4 linked regions of the Homo sapiens genome follow. The protein of the gene in region 2 purifies or fractionates together with the protein of the main gene of each other region. This does not show direct contact. Each region holds a gene or a part of one and is shown on either strand. Other genes may lie near its edges. The genes, in order: IARS1, LARS1, CCT8 and GARS1.

Region 1 (4,028 bases), on a different chromosome or scaffold from region 2:
ATTGGTTTCTGTGGCTGCTGCAACAAATTTCCACAAATGGGATGGCTCAAGTCATCTCACAGCTCTGGAGGCCAGACACTGAAATTAGGGTGTCAGAAAGGCCACAGTCTCTCTGAAGGCTCTGTGGGAGAATTCCTTATATACTTCTTCTAGCTTATGGTGGCGCCAGGCATCCCTTGACTTGTGGCCACATCACTTCAGTCTCTGACTCCGTGGTCACATTGCCTCCTTCTCTTCTGTTTCCTCTTTTTCCAAATAAAGTGAACATTCACAGCTCCTGGGAATTTAGAACCTGGGCATATCTTTGGAAGGCCATTATTAACCGATTACATTCTCTTCACTTTTTCTCTTGTGGTGAAGGAACTTACTCAAATTAACCCTTTTGCTATGGGTTTCTTATTTGAAGTTCCAGTTTCTTCAGCAGAGATTTGTTGGACTTCCCGGTTTGTATATACCGGAGGCTTTTCTTTCCCTGCTTTCCTAGCTCTTTAGTGCCAAAAGCATTAAGCCACCAGACCCCATGGGAGTCATTATTTTTGGCCTCTGTGTAATTCTCCCGTTTTCTTCCTGTGCAGCTTTTTTTTTTAAATTTAGTTGCATATCGTACTTTTAAATTTTCTGTCATGATGTTAAATACTAAAGCTCTATTTCTTCTTGGGTTCCTCCTTCCCTCCCTGGGTTTATTTTCAGTGACTCTCCTTTGTCGTTTTCCCTCTCATCTCATCATTGGGCCTCATCATCCATCTAAGTCACCAGTCTGCAGTCTGTACTCTTCACCAGAGCTATCTTCATGAACATTCCTGCCTTGATTTTGTTCCCTTGCTTAGAGCCCCCAAAGCTCCTTATTCTCTTATGCCTCAGAATCTTCCCTTCCACACAAGATCCTTCCTGCTCTGGGCCTTCCCTGTCTTGCTAATTCTGTCCATGAGTCTTTCACTCTATCAAAGGCTTTTTTCACTCTCCCTCGAACACACTTGGCTCTTTCATTGTGGTATGGTAGTAAAGATCATCTAATAATGTAGCTTTCTATTTTGATAAGCTTATATAAAACTTTAGAGATAATTCTTAACTCTTCTTGTCCCTCAAATCCTTTGGTCACCAAGTACTGTTGTGCAGTGGAGCTGAAGATGACATTTATCTCTCACTTGTTCTTGCAAGCAAATGCAGTGGCATGATTGAACCTGGTCAGGGGTAGAACCATGTCTGTATGAATTATGTATTTATAATACTACCTGCAATTCACAGAACCATTCTTAACCTGTGCTGCCTTTCTGTATTCTCTTTACTCTGTGACGTTAGTTAGGCAAAAGTTTAGTGGGTGAGAACTTTTAAATGTTTAGTGATTTATCTAAGATTACCACAAAGTTGGAACTTTTTCTAATTCAGTATCTTTCCAATCTAGTATCTATAGCTTCGTTTTCATTATGCCTTTTCTCTCAGAATTGTCTTTCATAAAGTATCAATAACTTGGTAAATTAGAAGAGCCACAAAATGTTGACCATTTTAGAAACCCTTAGATGTCTTCTTGCTTGCTCCACTAAACTCTAAACATCATCTCCAGGTCCTGTAATTATCTATTAAGGAAGTAGCTTTGAGAGTATTCTCACATCTAGGATTGCTGCTAGGTAGGACAAGAGCTATTTTTAAAGGAAGCTCATCTGTTTGCTTTAAATTCAGATCTGACTAGAAGCAAAATGCTCCACAGTAGGCAGATAACTTTAAATTTTCTTTTTTTTTGTTTTTGAGTTGTATATTCAGTATATTTCAATCAATTGCATTTGGGTTATATTTTTGGATGCTCAGAGTTTTCGTCATTGGCCATATTGGATCCTGTATTCTTTAACATGATCCTTTGTCTTTGGTAAATTCTTGCTTTCTCACGTAGCAACATGTCCTAGGCTTATTATGTACTTTTACTTCTCCAGACGTAGAAAATAGCTGTTCTTCAAATTATAGAGAATCATATTTTGAAACCACATATCTGGGATACTGAGTTGGCACAGCCTCTAGGCTTTTTTTGTAGACATAGGAAGTATCTGTGTATGAGGAAAAATAACCATCTTGGCAGTACCCAGAGTTAGCCAAACTGTGAAGTGATGGCATAGTCCTCCAGAAGGCTCCAGGAGTCTGCCCGATATCTAACTCCACCTGCAAGGAGTGAGGATTCTACTCAGGGAAAGATCCACACAAGACCCCCATCACTGCTGGCACCAACTGCAAGTTCCAGGGATTTTCCTAAACCACCCTCAGGTTCAGTAACCTGCTAGGAGGACTCAGACTCACTAAAAGGTATTACACTCATGGTTTGAATTAGGGTAGGGAAAGGATACACGTTAGAACCAGCGAGAGTGAGAGAGAGAGAGAGACCCTGGAGTCATGGATAATGTTTCTTCCTCTCATCCCTTACATCTGACAACACAGAGACTATATTACCAACCAGGGAAGCTCACTCGAGCCTTGGTGTCCAGTTTCTGTTGAGGTTTCATTCTGTAGGCATGATTGCTGTCTTTCTCAACTGATATACCATGTGACCCAAAGTCCCCATCCTAAATCATATACTTGGTCTTTCTGTCCTGGCCAGCACTACCCTGAATTGTCTCATTAGCAACAACTGTCAGGTTTGGTGAACATACCCACCATGAGAAACAAAGATTCCTACCAGGAAATTCCAAGGATTTAGAGGTTCACCTCAGGAGCTGGGACAAAAGGCAGAACTCTTAGGATAAGGCCAAATTCCTTACTACACAAGCAGTTAACATTTTTTTAAATATTCACCCCCAATAGGTAAAATACTGATTTTTTTTCAACTTTTTCTTTCCATTCTAGAAATTACAGAAGACATCCCCGTGAAGACTTTGAATATGAAGACTGTGTATGTTTCTGTGTTACCAACAACAGCAGACTTCTAGCATGTACTTATCAATGTTGTTCGGTCAGCCCTTCCCTAATTACACCTATCCCCTACACATACATGCACATAGACACACACATGAACACACTGAAGATATTTCCTTCAGGTGTGTGTAAAATATGCTGCTTGGATTGAAATTCAAATGGGATTGATTAGTCAAGTAACTTGAGACCTCACAGTAATCTTCACACTTAACCTTAGACACCTATGCAGTCATGTTGGGAGCAGGTTACAATGTTACTTCAGCCCACAGTTTATTTCTATACTTGAGTTCTTAAGTACAGAAGATAGAAGTGATTTAAATGGCATAGTATATATATCATTTTCTGGCCTTTTAAAATTTATTTGAGACCTCTTGATGAAATGGACATATTATATATTTCTGCCACCTGGATTTTCCTGGATAATTTGATGGAATATTTTAAGTTTCAGTAAATCAGAACAATAAACAAACTCAGATATAAATGTGTTGAAAGTAATTCATTCTCCCATAGATAAATGAAACTTGAAATGTGTAAACTTTGAAGAACATAAAAACTTCATGGTGGTTTCTTATTAAGACAGTGGACTAGACATCTAATAAAACTTCTTTCCAAAATCCCAGGTGATAATTTGAGTCCTCAGAGAAGCAGATGACATGACAAAGTTAGATGTGCAAGAATTTATTAGAGGAAACATAAATGGAGGATAAACGGGAGATGGAGCAAGCGTAGGTCGAGAGAGCCTTCAGACTGCAGTGTGGGTCTGACACCTGTAAAAAGAGAAAATGAAGATTGATTAGCAAAAACTTAGACTGCAGTGCAACTCTAAGATGAAGTCTTGGTCAGGCCAATGGAGAGTTCCCAAGCAAGGATTCCTTTTAGTAGAGTTCAGAATTGGGCAGAAATAGCCTGGCTTTGTTTCTCTGACTTCCTCAAGTCAGTTTCTGGGAGGAGACCAAGGGGAGCGTGGCCTTCGCACAAATGCCTTGATGGATCTGAAAGTACCAACTACACTCCTCATGTCAGATTCTTTTGAAGGGAGATCTGAATGATACATCCCTATGGCTACTACAACAGATGCATTCACACAAAAACCCACAAGTTGGAGAAAATAGAGGAAACAACCAGAACTTGGG
Region 2 (7,037 bases):
GAGAGCAAGCGTTTTCTGAGGTTTTCCACAAGGTGTCAGTATTTCCTCAAGTTTGGCATTTAAAGTGCTTAAAGTAAAAATGTAGCTTTACGCAATGAGCTGTGTAAAATATCACATTGAGTTTTATATAACTTGGTTTTCAGAGTTGTGGTTAAATAAGGATAAATGGCTGGGCATAGCAATGTGTTGTATTTATAGTCTTTTTTTATATTTAATATCCTATATGCTGCTAAGAGCAGTCACCCTTAATATACAGTTAAAGTTGTTCAACTTTTATGTCTCAGTTACAAACTGTCTGTAAAAAAATTCTTTTTTTGAGAATTATTAGTATAAAACTGCCATATACTTTGGACAAAGATAAATACTTGCAGATTCTTAAAGTAAAACCTTTACAGTAATTTGTTATGGATTTTTAAAAGACTAGAAACTTAAAAATGTGTTAAAACCAAGATACTGCAATTTTTCCCTTTATTTTTATTTTAAAGAAGGTGAGGGAAATGGTAAATAATTTCAAATTTTATAGGCCGCAAAAGATAAGTACCGTGAATTGGCTGTGGAAGGGATGCACAGAGAACTTGTGTTCCGGTTTATTGAAGTTCAGACACTTCTCCTCGCTCCATTCTGTCCACATTTGTGTGAGCACATCTGGACACTCCTGGGAAAGGTACCTTCATGCATTTAAAATGTTTCGAGTGGTTTTGATTTTGGCTTCATTAAATAAGTGTTGTGCTAATATTGTTACTTAAGAGAGAAAGTCTGAAAGTGAGTAATTCAAGAGTAATGCTGGATTCAGCATCATAATTATGACGGGTTAAACCAGAGCTATCTCCTATTCAGATGGATATATGTGCCCTTATTTATATACACAACAGTGCATACATATTTTTAAAAGGTGAAAATATTGAGAAAGATATAAACAATTGTTATGAGCTGCTTAAAAACAAAGATATAGGTGTATATTTGTGTATATTTGTGTAAGTATTCTTGTTTTATATAAAACTTCTGGCATATATAGGACTTAATATTCAGGGATAGTAGCATTCTTACTATGAATATAAATTCAGTTATTTCTCCCAGGCTTACAGATAAATAGATTGGCTGGTTTAATAACTCCTTTCCAGCCATATTAGCTAGGCTCTTTTGTATTTTTAAATGCATGAACAATACAGAAATGTGCTCATGATCTATATACCAAATAACCGTACTTGAATACTGGATGTATTAGCAGGATAAAAACTGAGTGTATGCATAATTTATATAATAATGATTAAATTTAGGCAAATTAGCATTACATAATTTTCTTTGAAAGTGAGCATATGTGTGTGGGTATTAATATGCTTGTACAAATGGATGCTAATTAAGAATGTAGAGTCAGACTTCACAGCTTGAATTCTAGGGAACATTAGATCAGGGGCTGTGCAAGTGTGTTATGTGTAGTCAAGTTTGAACTCTGAGCACACAATTACAGATGGTATCCTTGGTATGAAACTATAATCAAGAACCGTAAAATAGTTATATTGTCTAATCTCACTGAAGGTTTTTTTGTTTTTCTTTTTTTAAAAGCCTGACTCAATTATGAATGCTTCATGGCCTGTGGCAGGTCCTGTTAATGAAGTTTTAATACACTCCTCACAGTATCTTATGGAAGTAACACATGACCTTAGACTACGACTCAAGAACTATATGATGCCAGCTAAAGGGAAGGTAAAGTTTTTTTGTTTTTTTTTTTAAAGGATTATTCCTTAAAAGTTATTGATCAGATAACATTTAACAATAATGAAAGTTAAAAAGATTTTCATTAATGGTGAAGACCGTGGTGGTGTATGTTGGGGGAGGGTTCTTCTCATTTTTGGTTTATATAAAAGCTATTGAATGTTTTTCCTTTCTTTTACCGTCTAGAAGACTGACAAACAACCCCTGCAGAAGCCCTCACATTGCACCATCTATGTGGCAAAGAACTATCCACCTTGGCAACATACCACCCTGTCTGTTCTACGTAAACACTTTGAGGTGATGCTCTCAGTAGACTTTTCCCCCCTGATGGTGTTGTATGCTCCCTATGTTGTTTTTGTTTTTAGGATGTTGGCAATGTCTGGGAGAAGAAAGATAGGCAGCTTTGTTTCATTCCCTCTAGGCAGACAGCATCCTTTTGTTATTCTTGGTGGCTCTTAAATGGATGCTGAGGGAAAAGCTGCTGTTTTCCTCTCATTTCTGAAAAATTTATACAAAAATACATTGGATCTAGTTGAATGTAATCAAAAGAATTGGGGGTTTTCATATGTGTAGTTGAAATGATGAAATAAAAGGACAGAGTTTGCCTTTGGAATTTGTTGTAACTTGAGCAGTGGGAGTCATTCATTAAATTTATTCATTCATTATATTCATTCATTAAATTATTTCAAATCGTAACCTTGTTTATTGTTTGGAAAAAAGTGAAGCTTTGTTCTTGAGTACTTTAAATGTTGTTTGGTTTGATAATTACCTATAGAAATGTAGAGCTTGAAGACATTTTTGGCTGTGCCAGGTAATGATAAATCCACTTAAAGGGAACTCAATAACTTAGATCTAAGTTTTCCTGAAAGAAAAAAATGTATTTTTCCTCTGCATTCAAAATGTAGAAACAAAGTATGTTTATGAACTTTGGCTTTTTTGCTTAGGTTATTAAAACAGTTATTGCTAGATGCAGACCACTAAGGTGCACTTTAAAAAGAGAGACAAAATACGGATTGTGGTCAAAATGTAAAGAAGAAACGTAAAGGAAAAATTCTTAGCTTTGATATTCTAGACCATTATTGGAATTTTGCCTCAACACTTTTCATAGTTAATTAAGAAATGCTAAGAAAAGCTGCTTTTACATATGTAAAATTTGATAGAGAAGAGCAAATGTTTTTGTATTTCTTGTGAGTCTATTTTTGTGGAGAACTATTTCCACCTTTGAGTATATATGATAGAAATAGAAGGTGGCCTTTAGAATCTGCTTGCAGATTTTGAATTAAGGTAAATAAAAGATAAAAGCTACTTTGGTTGGCACAAAAGTGAAACTACCTCAGTGGATTATATATTCATACCAGCAATTTCAAGGAAGCAGTGGAAGAACCCAAATATAATATGTAATGTCTTAGGTATTAAAAAATGCATCACCTCTGTTCTTTTTGAAGTTGTTTTTTTACTTACTATTCATTTGCTAGATAATTGAAAACAGTGGTATCTTTTGGCATTAGCAGCTGTCTTTTAGATTTTTGTATGTTTTCATCCACAGGAATGAAAAGAATGTTCATTTATAATCACGAAGAGTGTTCTTATGTTGAATGTGGCACCATTTTGGTGACATAAGGCAAAGGAGTGTTTCCCACCCTTTTTCTTTTTCGTGTGTTTCAGAGGAATATATTAACAAGTAGAATATTTTTTTCCCATGTACTTTAGTAAAAGTTAGAATTGAAAATAGATTATTTGAAATTGTATTATATGTTCCTTTTCATTTAGATTCATTCCCAACCCTTCTTTTACAATAAAGAGAAAACAAGTTGCCCAAAACTTTGAAAAGACCAGTTGCTTTATTTCTCACTCTATTGAGGGGACCGTTAATATTTGTAGAAAGAAATGAATTTAGATTCATTTAAAGCACACTTGGATTGTACTCATCAGTGATATATGATATGGACATTTATTTTTGAGTAGATAGAAATGATTCTGTTTTTAACAGGTCAGTAGCTAGGGATTCTTTTCACAATTGTGGTAACAGTTTCTTCCAAGTGTCCAAAAGCAGACATTATATAAACTTGTATGATAGTTGTGTAATTTTTTATTTTAATATGACTAATAAAATGCTTTTAGAAATTTGAAAACAAGTTTTTATGAGACCATTTAGTTTCTGAACAGGAGAAATATTCAACACAAATCACTTCTTTTTCTCTTCTAAACTAAAAAGTATGTGTTGTTAATTTATAGAGAATAGGAGAGTTCCTTCTGCATTGTTCATTGAGCTTTCACTTCCCCGTGATGCTAGGGCTGGACACTTTTCTGCTGTTCTCTAAGGATTGATAGAGGCCACCATTCTATGCCTGGTCACATCTACTGTTCTGCCTTATTCTTGAGACTTTTTTTTCTACATTACTCTCCCTCCTTCCTTTTCTTAGGCCAATAACGGAAAACTGCCTGACAACAAAGTCATTGCTAGTGAACTAGGCAGTATGCCAGAACTGAAGAAATACATGAAGAAAGTCATGCCATTTGTTGCCATGATTAAGGTAAGCTGTGGACCTTATGCAGCTGTGACCACATGAGCAATGGTTAGATGGGACAATAGAAGGATGGGGAAAAGCCTTGGACATAGTCTCCTGCCAGAAATCTGCTAAAATAGCACTTTTCAATCAATGACTGAGAGAAATGATCTATCAGATTTTGGGTTTACTTGTGGAATTGCTGAGTATGTGAAAAATATTATTGTGGGAGAAAAATTGGTTTAGAATGGCTGCACTGAACTATTCCCTTCATATTCTACCTTCCCTTCTTTCAAACTCTTTTGGCTTACATTAGGCTTATAGAGGCTTGCATTTCCTAGACCCTATTCCTGGAACCAGGATTCAACATTTGTATAGGTATAGCTTAACAGGGTAAACATTGGTTATAGTGGTTAGACCAGGGTGTCTCAGCATAGCTCTGTTGGTATTTTGGGCTAGATAGTTCTTGTGGGGCACTTTCTTGTGCACTGTAGGATATGTAATGGCATCCCTGGCTTCTACTCATTAGAAGCCAGTAGAACTACCTTTCCTGCTAGTTATGACAATGAAAAATATCTCCAGACATTGCCAAATGTCCGCTGGGGGCAGAATCACCTTCCACTTCTTACCATTGAGAATTATTGGGTTAGACCCTTAGTTTTCTTCATATACGTCGCTGATGTATTACTGGATTTCTTGACAAAAAGAAACCGAAAGAAGGCTTATATTGCTTAAGATCGCAGGCTATGGGGCCAGAAAAATCTTGGTTGAAATTCTGTGTATCAGTCACTCCTTAGTTTTGAGACCTTGGACAAATCACTTAAATTTTCTGGGCTACAGGATTTTTCATCCATAAAATGAGGATACTATAGAACCAAACTTTTTAGGAGTGCTGTGAGGAGTAAATAAAATAGTGTACCTAACACACTTAAGTAGCACTAGTCAAGAAGTAGGCTCAGTAAATGTTGTTTAAAAATACAAATTAGTATCTTCCAGCCTACTAAGCATATTGTAGTTATTCTTGTACTGTCCTTTAATTCTTGTGTCTTCTTGGCTGCAGATGCCTGATGGAGACCAGACCTCTTAACTTCTTCAATATTATAATAGATTAGTATTCTTGGAAAAGGTTTTTAATTCTCTTAGACCAAAGTCACTATTTGATCCTCAGGGTATTTTAAGTTTCAGAAGTAATTTAGAATCCTGTGTTGACCTACACTAATCAAGTTGTAATGTAAGTGCTGGTATGTTCATAGTTCGTTGGTTCCCCAGTGGCTAGTGTCATTGGTCATAATGCCAAATCTCTGTCAACATGTGGATCCAACAAAATATTCCATTGATGGTTGCAAAGGCAATTAATTTTGATGACATGTTTTAAAAGAATCCAGGGAAACCTATTTGAAAAGTAGTTATGTGTATATGTATATATATATAGAGTGTGTGTGTGCGTGTGTGTGTGTGTATAAAATGATATTAGATTCAAGAGTTGGCTTCTTTAGGATCTCATTTAAATTTGAAGAACCAGCATCAGACCGTTTGAGTGGTAATATATTTTTAAAATTATGTTGGTGATTTGCCAGGCAAATTAGTGGTTTTGCAAATTTTGGAAGGGATTAATACATCTGGGAATAAGAAAATGACTTTCTAGCACTTCCATGAGAAAAAGAAATAGAACTTGCATAGTAAGCGAAAACAGTGAGTAGCAGGAATAATATCAGGTCACTTTCATTAAGTATAACATGTTCTAGGTAGTTATATCTGCATATGTACTTGGATCTCTAGGATTCTATTTTGCACAGCAAATATTGACTACCCAAGAAAATTAAGAATAAGAAATTATTTTTTACATGCCATGTTTGAGTACTCATGTAGTATGAGTTTTTTTTCTTTAAACTTTGCAGAAATATCTTTGGGGATTTTTTGTTTGGATATTATTAATTCACTATTCTCTGAAACAGCTTTAAGAAGGTGGTATCTCAGAAAATTAAAATTTTGTTTTTTTTGGGTAACTTAAAGGGATATTTTCACACATTTGGCTGATTCCCTGTAAAGTGAATTCTTTGGGCTTGCATGTTAAGTCAGTCTAAATAAACAATCATAAAACCGTATTTATTTTATAAATCTGAAAACCTTGTGCCTTCCCATCTTTTCAGTGCTGCCATAATCTTATAATACTTTAAAAGATAATTATTTGGAGCTAGTAAATTTCATTAACAAGCAAATGTAGGTAAAGGAAATCATGAGTCCAAGGCCTTTCCTTTAACTCCTGAAATCTGAAGATTTTATCAGTTGAGAGAAGAATGATTACTTTGGAGGAAGTATGTTTTCCAACATATTCTTACTGTGATTTTGTTTTTCCATACCATTTTGGCTATTAGGAAAATCTGGAGAAGATGGGGCCTCGTATTCTGGATTTGCAATTAGAATTTGATGAAAAGGCTGTGCTTATGGAGAATATAGTCTATCTGACTAATTCGCTTGAGGTAAGAGGGCCAGGGATTGTAATAACCAGTTAACTGTAGTTAAACCATAATCCAGCTCTTTTATTTTATAATAAACCTTTTTATAAATTTCATCTTCTGTGTTTAGTATCTTTGTTAAATATATTAGTCGAAAATATTTTTGGAGAGAAGAAAAATGGGTGAGTATAAAAGTTGCAGGAAAAAAAGTGATATGTCATCTTATTTCATCAATTCTTAATTTACATATAATCAATTATACATTAAAAAACTGTATATCTGGCTATTCTACTGCAAATTATTTTTAAGAGACCTTATATTCAAATGCTTTCCAAGCCTCTCATGTTATGGAGTACTCTGA
Region 3 (7,037 bases), on a different chromosome or scaffold from region 2:
CACACATACAGTATTCTGCTGCTTCATAATATATGCACATATATCTTCATATTTTTTTGCCAAACCTTTATTTCTTCAGTCAACTATTATCTAATGACTTTGAACACCAACGTAGTGAAATGATTTTAAAGGGAATGTTTACTTGTTTTGCCAGGGAACAGTGTTGATAAAGACTGCTGAAGAATTGATGAATTTTAGTAAGGGAGAAGAAAACCTCATGGATGCACAAGTCAAAGCTATTGCTGATACTGGTGCAAATGTCGTAGTAACAGGTGGCAAAGTGGCAGACATGGCTCTTCATTATGCAAATAAATATAATATCATGTTAGTGAGGTAAGAAAAAGCCGATTTTTTTTTTTACCTATATCATAAATGGTTTTTTGGTGGTGAAAACACTAAACGAAATAGACCATGAAGACTGTTAATAAAGGGAAAGTAAAGGTACTAGGTCAAATAGCAGAAGGATTTAGTTTGGGGAGGGGTCAGGAAACACCTCTGAGAAAACATAAATTTAAGCTGAGAGCTTGAAGAACCAATTACCAGATAATTGAAGAGGGAAAAGCATTCCAGGCAAAAGGAACAACTTGTCCAAGAGACTAGACACAAGCTTGGTGCATTGCCTATCAGAGTATGGAGTCAGGAAGATCCCTTTTAATCCATGAACACATTTATGGTGCACACTAGACAACTTAACCCATTTCTACCTACCACCATCCCTAGTACCTAATAAAATGTGCAAAATAAATCACTCTTGTTCACAGAACATTGATTGCACAAAGTAAAGCAAAAATTTTCTATATGCTGTTGAGTTTTGTAAGGGTTTCTCTGGTGTTTTAGAACTATAAACCACTGACATCCTAAAGTGACTTCCATTCTCCCAATTCTAGAACAATGCCATACAACACAGGCTTAAGATGTGGTACTATTGGCCAGCTGGACTCACTCAGAGAGTCAGGAATCAGCTTCCTGGCCTTAGTGTTCATTGCAATCCAGACATGTTCTGAGTTAAAATCCATTGTCAAAGGAATGTGACATGGGGGCTGGTATACAGGTTCCTCTTTAATTTGAACTTTATATGCTATCTGAAATTGATTAAAACTTTTATTAAGGTCTTTGTGTTTTTTAAAGGCTAAACTCAAAATGGGATCTCCGAAGACTTTGTAAAACTGTTGGTGCTACAGCTCTTCCTAGATTGGTATGTATTTTGGAAAACACTAAAAGATAGTTGAACAAGATGGAATTTTTATTACAACAGTCACTTTCTTACAGACACCTCCTGTCCTTGAAGAAATGGGACACTGTGACAGTGTTTACCTCTCAGAAGTTGGAGATACTCAGGTGGTGGTTTTTAAGCATGGTATGTAGGAATGGTAAAACATGTTTAAGTGTAGGGCTTTAGCTTCTTGTATTTAATCACCAAATATATTTAATTTTTTGATAGAAAAGGAAGATGGCGCCATTTCTACCATAGTACTTCGAGGCTCTACAGACAATCTGATGGATGACATAGAAAGGGCAGTAGACGATGGTGTTAATACTTTCAAAGTTCTTACAAGGGTCAGTATCAGCAATATTCTTAGTAGTTTGTAAGGTCTGAGTAATTTGTATGGTCTTAAAAGTACAGTTTGCAGACTCTTGCACATCATGAGAACTTCAGAATGAGTGGTTTATATGAAATGAAGCACCTGTTTTTGTTTTTACCTAAGACTTAAGTGTCCATTGTTAGTGAATATGATAGTTTCCAAAAAAGATTGTACAGAGGAGTTAACAGCAAAACAGAGCTTTAAAAAAAATTGTTTATCGTTGTTTTCCATTGTAATGTACTGTTAGTTGCTAAAGCAGTTCTTAGTGCTATATCTGTGGATATGCAAAAATGATACGGTACTATTCCCATTCTTCACTTTGGTCCTTTTCATACACCAGACACTGTGCACTAAGAAAATTTGCCCCACCCACTCATTTTTACCAAATTTGTAATATGTATTTGAGTAACAATGACTGATAAAAACTCCTGTTTGGTGGGGTACTGGAATGTGAAAAGATTAGAAAACTGCAAACTGATTTTTAGTGAATTTGTTTTGTGTTCATTTTTTTTTTGGTGGGGGCGCTACATACAGGATAAACGTCTTGTACCCGGAGGTGGAGCAACAGAAATTGAATTAGCCAAACAGATCACATCATATGGAGAGGTACAGCTTTTTCTGTATAAATTGACTTTCTTTCCATTGCTTGAATAAAAGACAGTAATTAACGCATTTTTGTTTTAGACATGTCCTGGACTTGAACAGTATGCTATTAAGAAGTTTGCTGAGGCATTTGAAGCTATTCCCCGCGCACTGGCAGAAAACTCTGGAGTTAAGGCCAATGAAGTAATCTCTAAACTTTATGCAGTACATCAAGAAGGAAATAAAAACGTTGGATTAGATATTGAGGTATTTGAAAAAACACTGAACTTAAATTGCTTTATTTGGGGAATGCACAACCTAAAAATAGTATGAGTTTAAAAGAAATATCAATGAGAAACAGTGTTCTGATTTGGGAGCAGATTATTTTCTTAGTTTTTACATAGGTTGTCTGATGGAGGAACGTTTCATTTTCCTTCTGTTTTATTGATAGTCTTTTGTTCTGTAGTGTGTAGTCAGCCCAGTTCTGTATCCATTGATTCAACCAACCACAGATTGAAAATATTTGGAAAAACTAAAGACATTTAAAAATACACTATAACAACTATTTACACTATGTTATATAATTAATCTGGAGACGATTTAAAGTATATGAGAGGATGTGCATAGATTATATCCAAACACCATGCCATTTTATGTAAGGGATTTGAGCATCCACAGATTTTGGCATCCTTGGAGGTGCTAGAACCAATCCTCACATACTAAAGGATGACTCTATAAGGTAGGACTGTGCTTGGTTACTTTCCAGTACTATTTAAGGAGCTATGTGAGGCTTTTTGTGGGTGTAAACATTTTCACATAAAAGGATTTTAAATGAAAGGATGAAAATTGTGTTTGACAGGCTGAAGTCCCTGCTGTAAAGGACATGCTGGAAGCTGGTATTCTAGATACTTACCTGGGAAAATATTGGGCTATCAAACTCGCTACTAATGCTGCAGTCACTGTACTTAGAGTGGATCAGGTGAGCAAAGTGAAATTTTGATCTTTAAAAATACTCATTTGCATACTGTTTAATAGTATATTTTCCCAGAACTAGAACATAGCATAGTTCTAATTCAAAGGATTCTTAGTCCTCACCTATTAGAGATACTATGTGCCCCCCTCCAATTTTTTTCTTCTATTATAAATTGTATTGAATATATAACTTTCAAACCTTTTAGCCTTAGAACCCATTTGTACAAATAATTTAGAGAGTAAATTTAATATATAATACTAACATGGAATTTGGAAGGACCATAAAGCTCTCAAGCAGACATTGCAGACCACCAGCTTGAAGGAAAATGGAGTCTCTAGCTGTCTGCAGATAAGAGGACTGGGCATTGAAAATTTTTTCTGCTATGACAAATTACAGCTTGAGATACTAAAAGATGTTAAAGGTGTTTAAAATCATATTTCTACCCTTTTTTTTTTTTTTTTGAAGAATTGTGGTAGACTGTTCTATATATAGAAGTAAACCTGAAATCATAATTATTTTTCCAAAAGGTATTTTCTGGCAAACTTAATTAAATACATTTCCCCACAAAATTCTAGAAGTAATTAATAAGCAATGACTATTTATAAGTACTTAATAGAAAATTTTAATTTGCTAGAGGGACAGTATACATCCATTAGGTAAAAGTCATATGTCATATTAAAGGTGGAGTAAGTCCTAAGTAGAAATCAGTGGAAAGACATTTCAGCTTTTAAGTACAGTAAGGACCAGTTGGTGGTAATTATAACAAATTTATTGGAAGAACTATGATAGCAAGAGATGACCAAAAATGGAACTGGATATTTAGTTTCAAGTCATTGAAAATAAGCAGAAACTAGATGTTTATGTACCAGATTAACGGGTTTCTCTGTCAGCTTATTAGGTGATTTTCAATGGAAGAATATGTTTGAGTTCTTAAATAGAAACCTAAGAAAATACTTATTCTAGAAATTAGAATGTGGCTAAGAATAAAAGGGGAAACCAAAAATAGCAGGGACGGAAGAAGCTAAGTAGACTGCAGCATAAGGAACGCAGAAATTCCAACTGTGTTAGGAACTTTGAATGTCAATTATTCAAGCAAGACAATAACCACCACCCTTGGTCACAAAGGCAGTTTGAATTTTGGCTTTAAACTAGGAAGTCTGCTTTATCTTATGGTAGGGGAAGTTGTTGGTTGATCTGTTCCCCCAGTCTTTGCACTCTATGTGAAGTATGTATCTAAAGAACCCATCCAACTGTATTAACCAGTTTGTGTATATAGTGTATAGTATAATGAACCTAAATTTGTATAGTATATATTCTAGAAAAGGAATTGCACATCAAGCTTTAAGCATTGGATAGTGTAGTACGGACTGGATTAATCTTTGTTGGAATGTCTATTTCACTAGTTCTCAAAGTATGGTCCCAAAATAGTATCAACATCACCTGAGAACTTGTTAGAATGACAGTTCTCAGCCAGGTATGGTGGCTCACACCTGTAGTCCCAGCTACGCAGGAGGCTGAGGTGGGAGGATCACTTGAGCCCAGGAGTTGAAGGCTGCAGTGAGCTGTGATCACATCATGGCACTCCAGCCTGGTTGACAGAGTGACACTCCATCTTTTAAAAAACTAAAAATAAATAAGAAATACAGATTCTTGGAGGCCAGGCGCGGTGGCTCACGCCTGTAATCCCAGCACTTTGGGAGGCCAAGGCAGGAGGATCACGAGGTCAGGAGGTTGAGACCATCCTGGCTAACATGGTGAAATCCCGTCTCTACTAAAAAAAACAAAAAATTAGCTGGGCGTGGTGGCAGATGCCTGTAGTCCCAGCTACTCGGGAGGCTGAGGCAGGAGCATGGCATGAACCTGGGAGGTGGAGCCTGCAGTGAGTAGAGATGGCACCACTGTACTCCAGCCTGGGCGACAGAGCAAGACTCCATCTCAAAAAAAAAAAAAAAAGAAGAAATACAGATTCTCAGATGTCACTCCAGACCCACCAATATCAGAAATGCTGGAAGAGGCCTAGCAGTCTGTTTTAATGAGCACTTTTGATTATGGTGCCCACTAAAGTTTGGGAACTACTTGTTTTAGTGTTTGTTTCTTTTTTTTCTTTGAGATGGAGTCTTGCTCTGTCACCAGGCTGGAGTGCAGTGGTGTGATCTCAGCTTACTGCAACCGCCACCTCCCAGGTTCAAGCAATTCTGCTGCATCAGCCTCCCGAGTAGCTGGGACTACAGGCGCATGCCACCATGCCCACCTAATTTTTTTTTGTATTTTTAGTAGAGACGGGGTTTCACCATGTTGGCCAGGATGGTCTCGATCTCTTGACCTCGTGATCTGTCCGCCTTGGCCTCCCAAAGTGCTGGGATTACAGGCATGAGCCACCACACCCAGCTTTTAGTTACTTTTTAAAATCAATGTGCACTTAGGTTCTAAAATTATGCTTAATGCCTTTAATTCAGTCTGAAATTACTCTCAATTGGTAACATGTTATTCTGAGAATTTCAGGTTTAGGTATCTTTTTTGTTGTTGTTGTGATAAGGTCTTACTCTATCACCCAGGCTGGAGGACAGTGGCACAATCATAATCAGCTCACCACAGCCTCAAAATCCTGAGTTCCAGTGATTCTTCTGCCTTAACATCCCGAATAGCTGGGACTGTAGGCAGGTGCTGTCATGGTTGGCTGAGATATATATCATATATATCTGATATGTATATATCACACATATCATATGTATATATCATACATATGTATATATCATACATATCTCATATATATCATATATATCTCATATCATACATATACATGATATATATATCATACATATATGTATGATATATATTATATATGATATATGTATGATATATGTATCGTATATATGATACATATATCATATATATATTATCAAATGTTATATATATATTTTATATATATATATATTTTTAGTTTTTGTAGACTAGGTCTCACTTTGTTGCCCAGGCTGGTCTCAAACTCCTGGCCTCAAACCTTGGCCTCCCAAAGTGCTAGGATTACAGGCATGAGCCACTGCCCAGTTCAGGTTTGCAGATGGTAATTAAGATGTTTTCCAGCCGAGCGCAGTGGCTCACACCTATAATCCCAACACTTTGGGAGGCTGAGGCGGGTGGATCATGCAGGAGTTTGAGACCAGCCTGGCCAACGTGGTGAAACCCCGTCTCTACTAAAAGTAAAAACTTAGCCGGGCATGGTGATGGGCACCTGTAATCCCAGTTACTCAGGAGGCTGAGGCAGGAGAATTGCTTGAACCCAGGAGGCAGAGGTTGCATTGAGCCAAGATCGCGCCACTGCACTCTCTAGCCTGGGCAACAGAGCAAGACTCCGTCTCAAAAAGAAAAAAAAAAAAAAAGCTAAAACCTATTTATTTTAGATAAAGTAAGGTGAGGTTTGTGGCGCTTTTTTTTTTAAGTTGGGAACTTAGATTTTTGTTTATGAAAATTCCTGGCTGCTTGAATGATTCTCATTTACAGGTTTTAGAAAATTTCAGTGTTAAACTTTGTATATACTTATGTATCAACTACTTTAGATTATAATGGCAAAGCTGGCAGGTGGGCCTAAAGCTCCTAAACCACAAGGAAATTGGGACAGAGATGGTTGGCAAGACACATCTCATATATAAATAGCAAATCAGGTGCCAAACTGACCGACTTACACCAGTGATGCATGCACATATTTTCACTTTCAGCTTTTTGAGTTATTGAAGTGCATGTCTTGGAATGTTCACTAATCTCTGTGGATTTTATTGCGGTTATCCATAAAAGCAGTAAACTTTCTCATGCGCTGAAAGTTTACAATTGAATTTCTAACAAGGGAGCTAGCAAACTCTGTGCTGTAGTGTTTTATATGCAGTACATAATTATACCAAGAA
Region 4 (7,037 bases), on a different chromosome or scaffold from region 2:
ACAACTTTAATTACTCAGCTGAAAGTTTTTCATCCTATATAGGTAATATTTTGTTTGTTTACTCAGATGACCTATTCCACCATATTACTATAAATATGGAATTAGTATAAGTTGTTGGAAGTTAATAAAATAATTCAGAAATATTAGCAAGGAAAAAATTCCAACTGTAAAGAGAAAGGCAAAGGAAGATGAGCCAGCAGTGACTGAGAAGAATGGTCAGAGAAGTGGGAGGAAAACTGAATAATGTTTTTATTTTTTTTTGTAAGCGAGAGGAGAGAGATTTAAGAAGGTGGTCAATTTATTGGTTCTTCTGTGTTCTCAGTACAAATCTTGCTCTTTCCTACTTTTTAATCAATGCTTTTGTCTCCTCCTTTTTCACCCCTCTATACCCAAAGGAAAAAATTCACCATGTGAGCAGTTATTTGTTAACTTGCCCGTGTGTTCTTCTAGATTATTAAATGAAGAGGGCAGAGACCTTGATTCATAATGATCACTCACATAATAAACATTTGAATTGCATCATTCTTTTTTTTTTTTTTTTTTTTTTTCATTTTGAGACGGAGTCTCACTTTGTCACCCAGGCTGGAGTGTAGTAGCATGATCTTAGCTCAGTGCAACCTCCGCCTTCCGGGTTCAAGTGATTCTCCTGCCTCAGCCTCCCAAGTGGCTGGGATTACAGGTGCCCACCACCACGGCCGGCTAATTTTTGTATTTTCAGTAGCGATGGTGTATCACCATGTTGGCCAGGATGGTCTGAAACTCCTGATCTCAGATGGTGAGGAGGGCCTTTCAAAGTGCTGGTATTACAGGCGTGAGCCACCACGCTTGGCCTGAATTGCATCATTCTTACATAGACTTTTTAAAAGGCACGCTTAAAAACACATTCCTAACATTTCTTAACTTCTGAAACCAATCCTGAATATAAATTCTCTTTCTTGGCTAGGGAGATCTTGTGCGAAAACTCAAAGAAGATAAAGCACCCCAAGTAGACGTAGACAAAGCAGTGGCTGAGCTCAAAGCCCGCAAGAGGGTTCTGGAAGCAAAGGTGAGTCCTGGGATGCTAAAATAGGAACATAAGTAGGTATAGGATTGTTCATCTTTAATTTCTTTGGATGGGAGAGACCTAGAAAAGTTTCTGAACAAGTATCATTTGGTTTATCTGTTTATCCATAATGCCGCCTTCTCCTTTCCCTCTACCTGGTAGACTCCTCATCCTTTCAAAATGCAACTCAAAATGTCAACTTTTTAATAAAGCCTTCCTGACCCTGCAAATGCTGGACTCAATACGCTATATGAATTTCCATGGAAAGGATTGTGCTCTTCTTTACGACTTCTCTTATGCCTGAAAATAATGATTTTTGTTTGTTTGTTTGTTTTAAGGAAAAGGTCTGTTTATTTGATACCTGCTCCCAGACCTTTCAAACAATAGATCTCCCATCACCAAACTTAAGTTGTTTTGGGGTTTTAAAGTAACCATTTTGCTATAGCAATCCACTGACAATTCAAATATTGCTTTATATTGCTTATCAGTATCTACATCAAAGTAAACTTAGTCTTGTTTTTTTTTTGAGATGGAGTCTCGCCCTGTTGCCCAGGCTGGAGTGCAATGGTGCGATCTCAGCTCACTGCAACCTCTGCCTCCCGGGTTCAAGTGATTCTCCTGCCTCAGCCTCCCAAGTAGCTGGGATTACAGGTGCCCACCACCAAGCCCAGCTAATTTTTGTATTTTTAGTAGAGACAGTGTTTTGCCATGTTGGCCAGGCTGGGCTTGAACTCCTGACCTCAGGTGATCCACCCACTTCGGCCTCCCAAAGTACTGGGATTACAGGTGTGAGCCACCGCACCTGGTCAAGCTTAGTCTTGTAATCTTGGAAATGATCATATATTTTCCTAAATGATTAAGTAAAGATATCTTTTATATTACTCAAAGGGAAAAAAAGACCTATGGCTTCTATTGTTTTTAACCTATCAAAATCTTGTCTGTTTGATAAATTTTATATTTAATTCTGGTGAGGAATAAACTAAATTCAGATATATAAGTTCAGATTCCCACCCACCCCTCCACTCACTCACTTTTTATTTAATCTCTAACAGGAGCTGGCGTTACAGCCCAAAGATGATATTGTAGACCGAGCAAAAATGGAAGATACCCTGAAGAGGAGGTTTTTCTATGATCAAGCTTTTGCTATTTATGGAGGTAAGGGATTAATGACAAAAAGAACTATTGTGTTGTTAGTGGCTCTAATATTATACTTAAATCAAGAACATGGCTTGCCTGTTGGTATCCACTTGTATCAGGCCACAAAGCAGAGGATGGATGTTTTGCTTTTGTTTGCTTGGAGTCACCATTTGGTGTGATACCTGTTATTTTTCTCCACTGCATTTATTCCTGGACAGCACTTTTTTTGATTAGGATGTAGGGAATTGTTGGAGGCCCATGTATGTATTTGATGTGTCTGTGTACTCATGTACTCTTTTTAAAATGCAATGGAGACTGAAGAGTAACAGAGGGCCATTGTAGTACTGGCTAACTATACTATGCCCCTTCACACAGGGGCAGTGATAAAACAGTCCTTAGATTATTCTTTATGGTCATCTGCCAGGAGAAAACATTCTTCCCAGGGATGTAGATAAATCACTGTGAATGCCATATGAAGGTATATAGGCAAATACAATTCACTGATGAAATGTAAAACTATATTTTTCATAGTCAACGGATTATTACAACAACATTAGACATATAGTACTTTGCCACTGAAAGTTGACTTGAGTTTGGCTAAGTGGATCTGTAAATGTTTACCCTTTTGAGGTTAAATAGTGCCTCAAATACCCAGGAAAAAATTAGAGAATTGGATGCTAAAATTATAGATCATTGTTATCAGATGTGGTGAGAAATTATTTTGTAATTTTTACGGCAGAAAACTGTAATCTGCTTTTTCATTCTGTTCTCTAAGGGGGAACTTTTGTTGTAGATTTTGGGCTAGTCCTACTTGAAATTACAAATATAGAATTAGTAAATGGCGTAAGAGCTTTTTTATTTTACTTCCATCAGCTAGCTGAAAGTAAGGTTCTTCAGTATTGAGGGATTTGCATTGTTGACTTGAATACACTTTTAGGGAGTATAGGTATCAGTTTCTCATGTCTCCTTGCCTTCATTTGTTCAGAGTAACAAGGTAAAGTATGTGTTTTCCTCTCATATTCTATAGGTGTTAGTGGTCTGTATGACTTTGGGCCAGTTGGCTGTGCTTTGAAGAACAATATTATTCAGACCTGGAGGCAGCACTTTATCCAAGAGGAACAGATCCTGGAGATCGATTGCACCATGCTCACCCCTGAGCCAGTTTTAAAGTGAGATCTTACTTTGGAGTGGGGGTATCCTACTTTAAATAAAATAACTTATTAAATTATTTAATATACTTATCTAAATAACTTCCTGATTATAAAGAACTACTCATTTCATGTAGAAAATCTGAAAAATATGGAAAAGCAAAGAAATGTATACCTTCTGCTCACAGATAGCTATGTTAAGATGATTGTGTTTGTCCTTCCTGTTTTTTCTGTACGTCCCTATGTATTTCAGTGTTAGCAGTACACTGCTTATTTTCATGTAATATTGATGAACATATACTCATATCATTAACTATTCATCTAAAGCATTTTTAATGATAGCATAGTATTCTGTTTTATGGAAGTGCCATAATATGTTAGTTTGTGCCATATTGAAAGCATTAAAGTGTTTCTCATTTTTGACTGCACCGAATATCTTGATAGATGGATTTTTGGGTATATCCTTGATTATTTCCTTAATACAAGTTCTGAGCAAAGGTATACTTGTAGAGATTTTCAGTTAAATACTATTTGTTTTAAAGTTTCAATGCAGAAACTTAGATTATTCCTACCAACGTTATTGAAAGTAGGGCAGAATTTCCTTTTTTTGTGTGTGTGAGATGGAGTCTTGCTCTGTCGCCCAAGCTGGAATGCAGTGGCTTGATCTCGGCTCACTGCAAGCTCTGCCTCCCAGGTTCACGCCATTCTCCTGCCTCAGCCTCCCAAGTAGCTGGGACTACAGGCACCCACCACCACGTCTGGCTAATTTTTTTTTTGTATTTTTAGTACAGACGGGGTTTCACCATGTTAGCCAGGGTGGTCTCGATCTCCTGACCTCGTGATCCGCCCGCCTCGGCCTCCCAAAGTAGGGCAGAATTTCAGAATGTGAAACTGAAAGGAATTCTTTTATTTATTTATTTATTTTTTGAGATGGAGTCTCGCTCTGTCCCCCAGGCTGGAGTGCAGTGGGGCGATCTCTGCTCACTGCAAGCTCCGCCTCTCGGGTTCACGCCATTCTCTTGCCTCAGCCTCCAGAGCAGCTGGGACTACAGGCACCTGCCACCGTGCCTGGCTAATTTTTTTGTATTTTTAGTAGAGACGGGGTTTCACCATGGTCTCGATCTCCTGACCTCGTGATCCGCCTGCCTCGGCCTCCCAAAGTGCTGGGATTACAGGCGTGAGCCACTGCGCCCGGCCTGAAAGAGGAATTCTTGCCATTTTGTAACTCGTCATTATTCATTTAAGGTTGACTGGTGGAGAGCTAATTTTTACTATTGGCATCCGTTAGGTTCTCTTAATAATTTCAGCCAATGAAGAGGAGGAATTCTGAATGATGGCTCTATAAGATCAGGACTACCTATCATTTTAGCTACTTGTTCCACCAATAGGAACTTTGTAGAGATAATACCAATGTCAGTACAGGTTTCAGTGGCAGAAAACACTTCCCTTAAGGTTCAATGTCTATACTGAGCTGCCATGAATTCTTAACTAGTCAAATTCCCAGTGATTTTGGCCTTTGCTTAGATCACTAATAATAATGGCATAGGCATGGATTAATTGATCCTGAAGAATAGTACAGACTTTATGACAACTTGTAGAAAAGAATTGTCTTTTTATTGTCTAGTTAATGTCTTCTTTCTTATGGGAAGGAAGAATGTGGGAGAGGGTGAGAAATAGATTTGAGGAAGAATTTTCTCTGGCATCCATTACTGTCATGGATACATCATTACTATAGATATGGGAGCTTCCATCTTTGAGATGGATATAAATATTGATGGGGAATTATCTTATAAGGTAATATCTATGTGTAATTTGTATGAGAATGACAAATTGGGTTGGCATTTGTTAATTTAGGACCTCTGGCCATGTAGACAAATTTGCTGACTTCATGGTGAAAGACGTAAAAAATGGAGAATGTTTTCGTGCTGACCATCTATTAAAAGGTGAGGTTCTTCATCTCCTTCAGGTAGGATTGATCAAAATAAAAGGTTTAAACTTTCTCTCAGATGTCTTTCATTAAATTTTTTATTGAGGCATAACATTCAAAGAGCAAAGTGCACAGATCTTAAGTATATAGATCAAGTCCTTTATTTTTTAAAAAAGTTATATGTAGATAATTAGTTATATACAGATAATTTTTCTAATTAGCAAATGAATCAAGACAATACCATGACTGCTGTTGTAAAATCAACTGTGGGATTCATGTAAATTAAGAACTTTATGCTTGGATTTACTTTTTAATTGTCTAGCATTGAAACTGAAAAGTGCATTGTCCTTTTTCCCATTGATTGATATATGTCAACACTGTTCTTACAGCTCATTTACAGAAATTGATGTCTGATAAGAAGTGTTCTGTCGAAAAGAAATCAGAAATGGAAAGTGTTTTGGCCCAGGTGAGTACTCTAGAGATGTTATCAGAGTAACCTAGGTGGTCGCTGTCCTTCTTTCAGTGTTTAATGACTGTTGCATTTCCCATTATGCTGACCCTGGCCACATTGTAATGAAGCAGAGGTTAATTCTGTCCTGTATAGCGTCTCTTTTTTTGCATTTTTATTTTCTTCTCTCTTTTGTGACTAACCCTTTATTTCAGCCCAAACTAACAAGTCCGTGTTAATAGGCATTCAATTTGTCTGACCTTGGAAACTACTTTTCTGGATTTAATAGCTAAAACCACAGGAGTGACTGATGATGGGTAGTGTTCAGCACTGGTGTGGAGACTTCGGGGCAGATAACTTGATGAGCACTTTCTCACTGGCTACTTGATCTGCCTCTGCTTGGACCCTGATTTCATGCTATTATTCTTAGAACCTCATGAGCAGGTCCTGACTTTTCTGTCCTTGCTTTTCTCAGTTTGCCTATAGGCCTAAAGTTTTATAATTTGTATAATATTTAAGCTGACAAATTTTAGAGAAGACAAAAAAGAGACCACAGAGATAATTTATTCTGACCTTTTACCAATTGCAGGAATACTTTCTATATTAGAAGTAGTTCTTATCCTTTTGTTGGGTCACAGACCACCCTAAGAATGTGATCAAAACTGCACGTCTCCCTGGGAAGATGCATGTGCTCATGTATATATGTTGCTGGTGTCTCACCTCATCTGTTGGCTATTCCGTTTAGGCAAAGTACATTTCTCCAACACCATGTTTAGTCATGAGGTCTACTGAGGCTCACCTCTTAAATTTTATTTACTTCCTTGGGCAAAAAACAAAAAACCAATACTGTGATTATACCTATTTTCTTTACACCGATCTCTCTCTCTCTCTCTGCCTGAATATAGAACTCCCTAATATGTTGTTTTTCATGGGAATTACTGGATACTTTTCCACTGTTGTCCTAATTTTTTTTTTAGCATGCTTTTTTTCTCTGTGATAGTTAACTTTCCAACATAGCTAAAATAATTTCTCCTTCTTCATTTACATTGAAAACTTTCTTAATTTGGCTGTTGAATCATCTGCTGATTTATTTTGATACTTGTGGAGTGTAATTTTATCCCTTGCTTGAAGCTCATTGTTTTAGTAATTACTCATGGTTTAGAAAATTATTTCTTACATTTTGATACTGTTGAAGCCACACGTTCATCTCATTTTCTTATCCAAAGGCATGCCCTTTATTAGAAAAAATGGAAAATGCCTCTAAGTATCCCTAAAATTTTCCATTCAGAATTTTAGATTTACTGAGGTTTTGTGTATATGTTTTTGATCTTAACA

The links.
Region 1: the proteins of LARS1 (region 2) and IARS1 purify together in Homo sapiens (affinity purification with mass spectrometry; 8 studies listed by BioGRID and IntAct, with this or other methods). This does not show direct contact.
Region 3: the proteins of LARS1 (region 2) and CCT8 purify together in Homo sapiens (affinity purification with mass spectrometry; 2 studies listed by BioGRID, with this or other methods). This does not show direct contact.
Region 4: the proteins of LARS1 (region 2) and GARS1 purify together in Homo sapiens (affinity purification with mass spectrometry; 2 studies listed by BioGRID, with this or other methods). This does not show direct contact.

The regions. Positions count from the first base shown.
Region 1 is NC_000009.12:92,209,688-92,213,715, reverse strand, and holds the end of IARS1 (isoleucine--tRNA ligase, cytoplasmic), read left to right. Parts: intron 1-2,826; coding exon 2,827-2,909; 3' UTR 2,910-3,509; downstream 3,510-4,028. UniProt on the Homo sapiens protein: Catalyzes the specific attachment of an amino acid to its cognate tRNA in a 2 step reaction: the amino acid (AA) is first activated by ATP to form AA-AMP and then transferred to the acceptor end of the tRNA.
Region 2 is NC_000005.10:146,123,645-146,130,681, reverse strand, and holds part of LARS1 (leucine--tRNA ligase, cytoplasmic), read left to right. Parts: intron 1-523; coding exon 524-664; intron 665-1,563; coding exon 1,564-1,704; intron 1,705-1,899; coding exon 1,900-2,010; intron 2,011-4,136; coding exon 4,137-4,247; intron 4,248-6,595; coding exon 6,596-6,700; intron 6,701-7,037. UniProt on the Homo sapiens protein: Aminoacyl-tRNA synthetase that catalyzes the specific attachment of leucine to its cognate tRNA (tRNA(Leu)).
Region 3 is NC_000021.9:29,056,648-29,063,684, reverse strand, and holds part of CCT8 (T-complex protein 1 subunit theta), read left to right. Parts: intron 1-154; coding exon 155-333; intron 334-1,128; coding exon 1,129-1,195; intron 1,196-1,269; coding exon 1,270-1,357; intron 1,358-1,441; coding exon 1,442-1,557; intron 1,558-2,117; coding exon 2,118-2,189; intron 2,190-2,267; coding exon 2,268-2,432; intron 2,433-3,024; coding exon 3,025-3,144; intron 3,145-7,037. UniProt on the Homo sapiens protein: Component of the chaperonin-containing T-complex (TRiC), a molecular chaperone complex that assists the folding of actin, tubulin and other proteins upon ATP hydrolysis.
Region 4 is NC_000007.14:30,597,853-30,604,889, forward strand, and holds part of GARS1 (glycine--tRNA ligase isoform 1 precursor), read left to right. Parts: intron 1-943; coding exon 944-1,045; intron 1,046-2,094; coding exon 2,095-2,197; intron 2,198-3,206; coding exon 3,207-3,348; intron 3,349-5,181; coding exon 5,182-5,270; intron 5,271-5,643; coding exon 5,644-5,720; intron 5,721-7,037. UniProt on the Homo sapiens protein: Catalyzes the ATP-dependent ligation of glycine to the 3'-end of its cognate tRNA, via the formation of an aminoacyl-adenylate intermediate (Gly-AMP).